Linked DNA regions of Homo sapiens: region 1 is linked to region 2. Evidence: fine-mapped expression QTL. Tissue or cell type: lung. Region 2 holds a variant in brackets; the other region holds the start of a gene. All regions are shown on one strand. Distances are between the middles of the regions. Region 1 holds the start of TMEM132C (transmembrane protein 132C). Region 2 overlaps TMEM132C (transmembrane protein 132C).

Region 1 (5,372 bases), 20 kb before region 2:
GTGTGCATGTTTGTTTGACTGCTCTTGAGAGGGACACGCAATAGATTAAATGGAGTCCTAAAGGAAGGTTTGCAGAGAAGCTTTCATTTGCTGGGTCTCCTGAAGGCTCTCACAGGGGATGCCCGGAGGCATCATAGTCTCAAGGGGCATCTGTGATTCAGGATCACCTGAAGACAGTGGCTGCCTTTGGGGTGCTGTGCAGTGAGCTTATCTGATTGAGAATCCTTTCCCCACTCCAACCCCATGTTGAATTAGTATTTATTTTGCTGTGGCTTGTTTGGTAGCCCCTGGTTTTGATTATTTGCATCACAGAGATGTAGTCCAGGACCTGACTTGTCTTTGCAGTAGGGACAGCAATGTTCTGTGCCAAAAGGAAAGAAATGATGTGGAAAGAAGGTACATTATGAGGCTGCATAGAACAGGGGAGTGGAGGGCACTTCTTTGGGTTTTTATTTTTTGTCCCTGTTATCCAATAGGGAGGAGAGAGGATAAGGCAGATTCCCATCCTCAGTTACAAACAATGGGACATGTGTATTTCTCCCTCATGCTGGGAACATTTAAATGAAAAAAAAATTATTCCCCGGTGATGTTCAGGCTCAAAGCACTGAGAATAAAACGTACCTTCCGTTTTAGGAGCCCAAATCTACTTTACAACTGCCCCCTGCCCCCAAGGTCAGGTCTACACTAGCTGAATGTACTGAAGAATTGGGCGATTATCAGCATAATCCACTTTAAAAATCAAGTCTCTGCTATCCAGGCCTATGAGAATCAAGCTTTTACCGTTCCCTTTGGGGCCTGGATAGTTTTCAAGCTGCCTTCTCCTCACATCATGTGAGTAGAGCCGGCCAAGAAAACCAGGGAGACATCTCCCCCCAGCCTGGCCCAGACTTCCGGGCCCCACCCCAGGAGAGAGCCTCCCACTCTGGCCAGTGCCCTGCAAAGCCTTCGCCCCACCCCGCCCCAATTTCTCCTTATGCCTGGCTCATTCCTTAGGGGCTGAGTTGGGAGATAAGACTTGGGGTTGCAGTTGCTGGGGATCATTCGTTTACATTTCTTTTCTTTCAATCAAGGACTTCTTTTTTTCTTTTGAAATTCTTTCCTGCACTGATGGTGAGAAAAGACCCCTCAGGCTTCCTTTTGATGTTGGACCGAGCCAGCCCACGGTGAGAGGGGATGCTGAGCCCGTGGTGAGGAGCTCAGGACAGGAGGGGACGTCCAGAGACCTCCGAACCCATGGCCCTTCATTCCCAGTCACAAGGGGGGAGTCGGGGTCCCGCCCTCAAACTGCTCAGACCACGCGTGGCAGAAAGAGCAGAGCATGAGCATCAGGAACCGCACAGGGAAGCCGCTGAGATCACCTGGGATCACCACCATGAGGGAGGCCAGCCCTGGAGAAATCAGAGGGAAAAGATAGAGAGAACGAAGTCGGGGGGGGGGGGGGGAGGGCGGATCTTCCTTGTCTGAGTCTGCAGAGAAATTGCCTATTGCAGGAGCAAGTCTAGAGAGGGGCTATTCTCCACCCACTGAAAAGATAATAAAACACATGCTATGGGCGGCGGGGAGATGATTGGGGAGTGGAAGCCCCACAGACATGCAGTGAAAAATGATCCTTTCTTCCCCTCTGCGTTCTCGTCCCCTTCCCAGAGACACCGCTGTGATCTCGTGCCTCGCCCCCTCCGCACACGCACAGGTGCACACCCGCATCTGTCTTGAGCCCGCACCCCGCCTTCACGCTCCGCTGCGCGCTGCTTTTCCGCGCTCAGTGATCCAGTTAGGAGCTCTCCCCGCAGCAGCTGCGCGGGACTTTGCATTCCAGATGTCCCCAGCCCTCCAGGCTAAAGCAGCGGCCACCTGAAGTTGAGGAATGGGGCGTGACGACCACCAGGTCCCGCAGTGACCACGGGAGGGTGGGGAGAAGGAGTCCAGCTCCGCCTTGAGCGTCGGGTCCCTGGGCAGGACCCTCCGGGCCACGGGCCGCTGTCCGTTGGGCACCCGGGCAGGAGTCTGCGAACGCTGAGTTTCTCTGGAAAGGCGCGGACCCCCGGAGGAGCCGTCCCAGCCGCCTGGGGAGACGCCCCCTCCTCTCCCGGTCTTCTTTCCCGGGCACACCCTCCCTAGCCCGGGCGGGGGGGTTCTCCATCTGCCGCCCCTCCCGGCGGGCAGGCGAACTCTCTCCTACCGCACCCTCAATCTGTCCGCGGTCGCGGGGCTCGGCGGGGGCGGGGCCCGGGCGGGGGCGGGGGCGGGGCCGGGGGCGGGGCGGGCCGGCGGCTGCGGAGGCTGCGGAGGCTGCGGGAGAAAAGTTGTCCCGGCCGGAGCGCGAGCAGCGGCGGAGCCGGAGCCGCCAGAGCCAGAGCCGGAGCTGCGGCGGCGTGGACCCGGCAGGGGCGGGCCTCGGACAGCAGAGACGCAGCGGGCCCGGCCGACCGGGCTGCGGGAGTGGCCCCGGGCATGGGGCGGCCGGCGGGGGCCGCGGGCGGGCGCTGCGCTTCGGGCTGGCGGCGGGCTGCGTGAGCGGCCGGGACGCAGGATGCGCTCCGAGGGTGCGGCCCCCGGGCCGGCGGCGCCGCTGTGCGGGGCGCTGAGCCTGCTGCTGGGCGCGCTGCTGGGCAAAGGTAAGGCCGGGGCGGGTGCCTGGCGCGCCGACGCATGCGAACTTCCCGGTTCCGGGGGAGCTCGGGGTGAGGGCAGCCGAAGCGAGGGGTGCGGCGGGGGCCTCGGCGGGGGCTCGGATCCCATCAACAGCGCCTCTGCGGGTGCCGAGCCGCCCCTAATCCAGAAGGGCGCTCCCAGCTGGGCGCCGGGATCCGGGCAAGTTAGGCTGGTCCCGAGTCCCGAATCTCCCACCCCGGACCCCCCAGACCCAGAGCTGCCCCGCGGATGAGGAGGGGGCGTGGCTGAGGGACACGGTGTTTGTTCCCCATCCCTGAGTTCCGTGCGGACCTGCCCCAGCCCCAGCACAGTCACCCTGTGGAACTGGCATCCAGGAGAGGTGCTCCGCTCTGTGCGCTCCTTCCTCCCGGCTGTGTGCTCCCTGTCCACAGCTCCCCATCCACAGCTTCGGCACTGTGGGGCTGGTGCTCCAGGAGGGAAGGCCCGGTTCTTTGCATCCCCTTTCCGCAACCGCTAGGGTCTCTGTGCGGGCCCTAGAGGAACGCTCACTCATCGCGCAGCTCACCAGGGACCCCAGCTTGGCAGAAACCAGGGGCTCTCTGCGGGTTCTCTCAAATGAGTCCTTTGCGGTGGGGGAGCGCGGATGGGGAGGTGGGTGCGTCCCTCGCGACGGGAACTACCTCACCAGCGGTCCTGTCCGGGGCTCCTTCACCTCAGTGTCCTCTTCTCTACAATGGGAGTGACGGCCCTGCTTTGGGTTGGAGGAATTTAAAGGAGTTAACGTATGGCGCCCGCAGGGCTCACGAAAGGTAGCCGTGTGGTTTTTCCGACCTTTTTTATTATGTGCGTGTGCGGCCGAGTGGCCGCGCGGATGCGGCGGCGGGAAGGGCGGGGAGAGGCGGTCTCCAGCCCCAGGAGCCGCGGGGCAGGCGGGGAGCAAGGCCTAGGCTCTGCCAGGGCAGCAGCTGCCCGAGTCCCGGGGCGCGCCCAGGGCGTAGAAAAAGGAGAGCGTCGCTTTCCTGCTCCCCGCGCCCTGGCGAAGGTCTCGGGTTCATTTGGTTAAACGGAGGTGCGCACATGGGTGCCCTGAGCCTTCGCGCGGCGCCGCGGGTCCAGTATCGGCCCCAGGCTCTGAGCAGAGAACACTCAAAGCCACCCTTCTCCCGCCTAATGCTCTGAGGCTGAGCTAGAAATGCGTTCAGAGAGACAAGTTGTCAATGGAGGTTTAAAAGTAGCGTTTGCTTTTCAAAAGTCATTCTGCACCGCCTGAAAATCCAGAAAAATCTACTTTCCTTGAGGCTGCGCTTTCCCAGATACACCAACCAGACAAGTTTGCTATGTTTTATATAAGTGTTCCTTTCTTCCAAGAGCTCCAGGTAGGGAGGAGGGTGGGGTGAGAGAGGGGGGGGAAGAAGGAGTGAGAGAAGAGGGAAAGAGAGGGTGGGGCGAGAGAGGGGGGAAAGGGGGTGAGAGACGAGGGAAAGGGGGGGCAAGTCGGGGGTGGAGGAGTAGGAGAGGGGGGCACTTTTCTATTTTATTTGAAAGAGTCAACAGTCACGATCTGGTGCCTGAATTCTGCTGTTAATTAGCTCTAGGTTCCAGCGTTTCTAGGATTCAGTTTTCCTAGATGCAAAGTGGCCATTGAAGAATTCCCTTCCCAACCTACCTCCCAGCAGTTTTTTGTTGATAAAATGACTGAATGGGTAGTAAAGCACTTTGCAGAGGAAGGCGGTGCTAATTGAGCAGGGCGTGACCGACCTCCTCCGGGTTTTCACCCCTTGCCCTTGAGAGAATTTAACCAGGCGAACTGGATGTTCCCTTTAAAGCAAGTGTGGACTGTTCTTCATTAAGGCTCACATTCCGTGTGTGTGTGTGTGTGTGTGTGTGTGTGTATCCAGAGGATTTTACTTTTGATTACGAGAGTGGCTGTTACAGATGTCCATGTGTTCAGTGCTGGGGGCAGTGATTTGGCTGGAAAGGCAACTGGGACTGGATTTGAAGCTGATATTTGCACAACAAGGGAAAGTGCTGAAAACTAGGGACGTAGCGAAGCCCCACCCCTATCCCAAACCGCCTCTGCCCTCTAGCTAAGTGCAACCTTGATTTGATGGGGCTTTCTTTCCCTGCTTTTTGCTTTACAAAGTTCACCACGTGATTTGGGGGTGCATAAGGGCCTGCAACTTATCATCTGCAAAATACATTTTCCGTTTGTTTCTCATGATCAAAAGCAGCAGTTCATTCCCCCCTCGGATTCCTCCACACGTAAAGCGTTTGCACCGTAAGATATCTTCTAGAGAGGAAAGTTTGCTGACCTTGTTTACATTTCTGCTGTCTTTAAAAAAAAAAAGCCATCTCTGTCTCTTCCTGCACACGGATTTAAGTGCTGATTTCTGGAATCCTTGAAACCACTGATTAATTTTTAATACCAATTGTCTGTTTATTTTTGACTGTGGATTTAGAGGCTTTGCAATTTGTCAGGGTTCGGAAAAGGCAGAATTGTTCTTGGGAGGTTCCATAAATAGGACAGGGCATTGAAAGAAAGAAATCTTTTCCTAAGATTTAAGACTTGGGCCGAGGCAGGAGAGGCAAAACATCCTTGAATTAGAGGTTGATGTATTGCGCCTGTATAAAGCAAGTGGAAGGGCGGTGCCAGGCTGAGATGCCCTCGGAAGTTTAGTGATGGTTGTTAGTCACATATGAGACCTTCTGGGAAGGTTATGTGGGACCACATTCTCTTTTCTGAAATCTGTGGGGGCAAA
Region 2 (5,372 bases):
CCCACATAAATAAGACAATTTCTACCTATAGCAGTTAAACATATAGTAACATTAAAAGTCAGTGGCTTAAGTTAATTGGAATTATGTAAAATAAGAAAATGATATAGATGAATTTGGGATAAATTATCATTTTAATAATAATAACCCTTTCTAAGGCTATGGTATCTCATAGAATAGAAGTAAAGAGTAGAAGACAGCCAGCATGGTGTCTCATGCCTGTAATCCCAGTACTTCGGAAGGCTGAGGTGGAAGGATTGCTTGAGCCCAGGAGTTCAAGACCAGCCTAGGCAATGTGGTGAGAACCCAGCTCTACCCCAAAAAATAAACACAAAAAATTAGCTGGGCGTGGTGGTGAGTGCCTTTAGTCCCAGCTACTTGGGAGACTGAGGTAGGAGGATTGTTGACCTTCAGAGGTGGAGGTTGAAGTGAGCCAAGATTGCACCACTGCACTCCAGCATGGGAGACAGAACAAGACCCTGTTTAGTGAGGTAGGAGGGATAAGTTCCAGCACTGCAGGGTGACTATGATGAACAACAATTTATTGTATATTTTCAAATACCTAGAAGAACAGATTTTGAATGTTTTCAACAAAAATGGTATTTGAGGTGATTGATATGCAATTACTCTGATTTAATCATTACACATTTTGTACATTTATCAGAATATCATATTGTACCCCATGCATATGTACAATTATTGTGTTTTAATTACAAATAGGAATGAAAACAAAAAAAAAGACATTTTAGTAAATAAATAAAATTATCTTATCACCAGCTTTTAAAAGATTAAAGAGCTTAATGTCGTTGCCAGGGAAGAACATTAGACTCTTAAACACAAGTAACAGGTTAACACCAGTGTAGGCAGCAGAGGAACTTTTACAGACAGGCAAGCCAAGGAAAGATTGACTAAAAGAGGAGAGGAACCAGCCGGACCCAGGGGTTCACTGGGATTTGAATAGGGCGTCAAGGACATATTCATTCTCTCTCTCTCTCTCTCTCCCTCTCCCTCCCCTCGCCCCCATCTCTCTCTCCCCATCTCTATCCCTCTGTCCCTTTCTCTCTTTCTCTCTCTCTCTCTCCCCATCTCTATCCCTCTCTCCCTTTCTCTCTTTCTCTCTCTCTCTCTCTCTCCCCATCTCTATCCCTCTCTCCCTTTCTCTCTTTCTCTCTCTCCCCATCTCTATCCCTCTCTCCCTTTCTCTCTTTCTCTCTCTCCCCATCTCTATCCCTCTCTCCCTTTCTCTCTTTCTCTCTCTCCCCATCTCTATCCCTCTCTCCCTTTCTCTCTTTCTCTCTCTCCCCATCTCTATCTCTCTCTCCCTTTCTCTCTTTCTCTCTCTCCCCATCTCTATCCCTCTCTCCCTTTCTCTCTTTCTCTCCCCACCTCTATCCCTCTCTCCCTTCCTCTCTCTCTCTCTCTCTCTCCCCATCTCTATCCCTCTCTCCCTTTCTCTCTCTCTCTCTGCCTCCTTCACACACACGCATGCTTTCATGGAGGCTTCATTCTCTCATTTGGATTTTCTACATTATGGGAAATGTGGCCTCTGAGAGCTCCTGGACTTCAGTTCTCAGGAAGGTCTTTGCTTCCCTTAGCTTATACGTGAACATTTCAGGAAACGACTCTGCCTTGCTTGGTGGAATGTGCCCACTCCTGGATGCAGGCTTACAAACTCAAATGCCTCCAGGGCCCCTGCTTAGACAGGAGTGAAGCACATTGATTGGGCTATGATGAACGGGAATATGATGCTCAGTTTGTGAGGCCAGGGCCACTCCCACATGGTGACAGCAGGTGAGAGTAGCTCTGGCCCCCATAGACAGTAGTGGGTGTGGGCAGAATAATTCCTAAGCCTTATTGATTTACATAAACCGGGAAATAAGGATATTTAAATATGAAATGGCAGCTTTCAAGTGTGGACAGCAAAATAAAAAATTGTTAAATGCTGTGTGGGACAAATAGTCTAGGTTATGACCTCAGGACCATTTTTCATTTCTGCCTTTGACCACTGAACTTTGATGGAAAGGATGAGATACTAGAAGTGGCTCAGTTTGGGCACACAGTCACCTGAGGCCAAAGCAGCAAGATCCACACAGACATTGAAGTTCCCATCCAGTCCATGCAGCTGGAGTTTTGAGATCCCTTCCCAGAAGAAGGGACGTGTTGGTACCAGAAGAAGGGAGAGAGGGAGTGCCGGGCACGTGAGATTATTGTCCATTGAACAGGATCCTGGAAAACTTGAGAGAGAGGGGTAGAAAGAGTAAAGATGTTGGTCAAGAGAATAAGAGAAAGAAGACGAAGAAAAACTATGTTATCTCTGCCAAATGATGCTGCTTTTCCAAGAAGGGCAGCGGTTTTGCCAGCACTACTTGTGATCATGTCTGTGAGAAATCTTGTTCCTTCTCCTTTAAGTTTTGCAGTCAGAGTTTCTCAGCCTCAGCACTGTTGACATGTTGGGCAAGATTATTGTTTATTGCTGGGGTGGGGGAGTGTCCTGTGCAGGGCTAGATGCCAGCAGCATTTTCCCTGCCCACACAGTTATGACAACCAAAAATGTCTCCAGCCATTGCCAAATGTCCCTTGGGTGCA[T/C]TGAGAACCTCTGGTTTAAATCCTGCCCACTCTGTATAAAGTACTTCCTGCATCAAAATATTGTCTTAAACTTTTTACTAGGAAATAATTTTAGGCTTTCAGAAAAGTTGCAAAAATAGTACAAAGAGTCTTACATACTTTTCACCTAGATTCCTCCAAATTAACATTTACCAGGTTTGTTTATCAGTATTTTTCTTAATAGCTTTGTCTGAATGTTTCTCTCTCTCTCCCCCTCTGTCTGCATATCTATATCTATATCTATATCTATATCTATATCTATATCTATCTGTGTGTGTGTCTCTAGGTGCAATTTTTCTGAATTAATTATTAGTAAGTTACACACATTATACCTCTATCATGTGTATTCCTTAAAATAAGGCAATTCTCTGATATAATCACATTGGTCAAAGTAAAATGGCATTGCTATGGTACTATTATGTATCTGCCTCCTTTATTCGAATGTTTCCAGTTATTCCATTACTGTTATTTAAAGCCAAAGAAAACTGATTTTTTCTGTTGGTCCAGCATCTCATGCTGTGCTTCCTTGTAATGTCTCTTTGTGTTTTTTTATCAGAAACAATTTCTCAGCCTTTTTTTGTCTTCATAACTCTGACGTGTTTGAAGAGTACAGGCCAGGTTTTTTAGAAGAATGTCCCTCAATTTGATCCGTGTTGATTTGGAGGTAATAGCTGCATTCATTTCGAATTGATCTAGCCCTTCCGGACATTGAGTTCTGAATTGGGATGATTGTGTGTTTGGTGCAGTCTTAATATCACTGTTGTCCACAGTTATCCCTGCAGGATCCTCTCTTACTTTTTTTTTTTTTTTTTTCTGAGATGGAGTTTTGCTCTTGTTGCCCAGGCTGGAGGGCAATGGCGTGCTCTCGGCTCACCGCGACCTCTGCCTCCCGGGTTCAAATGATTCTCCTGCCCCAGCCTCCTGAGTAGCTGGGATTACAGGCATGTGCCACCACGCCCAGCTAATTTTGTATTTTTAGTGGAGATGGGGTTTCTCCATGTTGGTCAGGCTGGTCTCAAACTCCCTACCTCAGGTAATCCGCCTGCCTCGGCCTCCCAAAGTGCTAGGATTACAGGCGTGAGACACCACGCCCAGCCCTCTCTTACTTTTAATGTCCCCATTATTGTGGCTGAAGGGCTCAGAAGCCCTCTGCCTCTGAGTAGGACACCCTCCTCTCCTTCCCTCCCCTGCAGCTGGGTCTGGGCTGTCCTGTTCTGGCGTGAGTGGTTTCTTCTGGCCCTGCCTCTTTATCTAGTAGAGTTCTGCCACTGAGTTTTCCCTGGGACAGCCACATGGGCACAGCTGTCTCCCAGGCAGCACTAGGGGAGGAGATCAGGCTCCCAGCTCCCCCAGCATGACACAGAGCTGGTGGGAATTTCAACAGGACTTTCTGAACGGTGAGGGACAACAGGGGCCCCATGTCACTGTGGAGGCTGGCACTCTTATATATTCATGGGTCAAACCCACTGTAGTCTCTGAAGTCTGGCACATGCTGTTGTACCTGAGTGTCACAGTCACAGGCTAAATAAGCCCTTTTCTTTTACAACCTTCCCTTCAGTGAGGGCTGAGGGAAATTCACATCTTCTTGCTTTCCCCTCCTTCCCTTGATTTCCCCAGGACAGCCAGCTCTTCTTGGCTTTTACTGCCCCGGAGAAGATGCTTAGACATACAGGCCTGCATGTGTGCACCGCCCCCCACACAGTCACACATTCACACACGCATGCATGTGCTCACACGCTCATGCTCATTAGCGCACACATGCACACTCACATTCACACATGCACCTCCCACACATTCACACACTCATGAACACACATGCACGTTCATTCACATGTGTGCCCACACGTGCACAAATACATATGCTCGCTAACACACACTGTAATGCATACATGCACGCTCATACGCATGCACTCACACACATACACCTGCATACTCTCACTTGTTCATTAATGCGCATATGCACCTATACACACCCTCTCACATGTTAACATACATGCACACTTATACACACGCACACATGCTCATGTGCGCACACACACACAGACACACATACGTGAATGCAGCCTTGTGACTAGCCGTTAGTTTTTAAGAACAAGGGAATCTAAATCCAGATTTAGGAATTTAAAAATGTCCCTAACTCCGTGGGGCACAGTCCTGTTAGTACATCTATTTGCGTGACTAACCAAAACAGTGAATATCTTCATTAGAGTTAATGGTAACTTTACAGTTTTCTCCAAGAACACGGCGTACCTGGTTTATAGGGGTGCAGCTGAAAACACATGCAAGCACACACACTCACAACACATTTTGGAGAATATTCTGAAAGAAAGTAGGCCCAAGAGGTGTATTTAACGTCCCCATCTTCAAAGACAGAAAATTGCTGGTAACTTTTAAATCAGCATTTTCTAATTTGCAGTCTGCCCTATATGATTCTCAATAATTTTTGGCCTATATTGGTATCATCTGCACTTCCATTTACTTAACAACAGCTTTTCTCTATTTCAAGTCTTTTAATCTGAGCTTTGCCCTAAGCAATCATTTCCATGAAAGTCACTGTTTTACATACTAATTGCATTTTCCCCAAAACATCAAGCTAAATACATAACTGATAGCATGTTTAAAGGTCCTATGTTTCACCTCAAATTATCTCATATTTCACATGAGGCAAACCCTGTCCTGAGGCCCTGATGAAGATGGGCAGGCAGATCTGATATCAGCTGCTTTTCTTTCCTTGATGGAACCTCTGGATTGCGTGCCCTATCCTATAATGT

Evidence for each region. PIP is the estimated chance that this variant, and not a neighbour inherited with it, causes the effect.
Region 1: it holds the start of TMEM132C, and the variant in region 2 is the best candidate, but not a certain one, in a credible set for the expression of TMEM132C in lung (TOPMed, PIP 0.58).

The regions. Positions count from the first base shown.
Region 1 is chr12:128,264,873-128,270,244 of GRCh38, forward strand. TMEM132C (transmembrane protein 132C) reads left to right here and starts at 2,298. Exons shown (of 9, transcript NM_001136103.3): 1 at 2,298-2,615. The coding sequence starts at 2,531. LOC107987176 (a long non-coding RNA gene) reads right to left here and starts at 2,160. Exons shown (of 2, transcript XR_001749176.1): 1 at 1,699-2,160. RefSeq lists enhancers at 1,444-1,965, 2,501-3,339.
Region 2 is chr12:128,284,660-128,290,031 of GRCh38, forward strand. The region is part of intron 1 of TMEM132C (transmembrane protein 132C); the gene reads left to right. Among named protein-coding and RNA genes, the nearest start is that of MIR3612, 6.7 kb to the right of the region's middle. The variant T/C (reference allele first, on the strand shown) is at 2,584.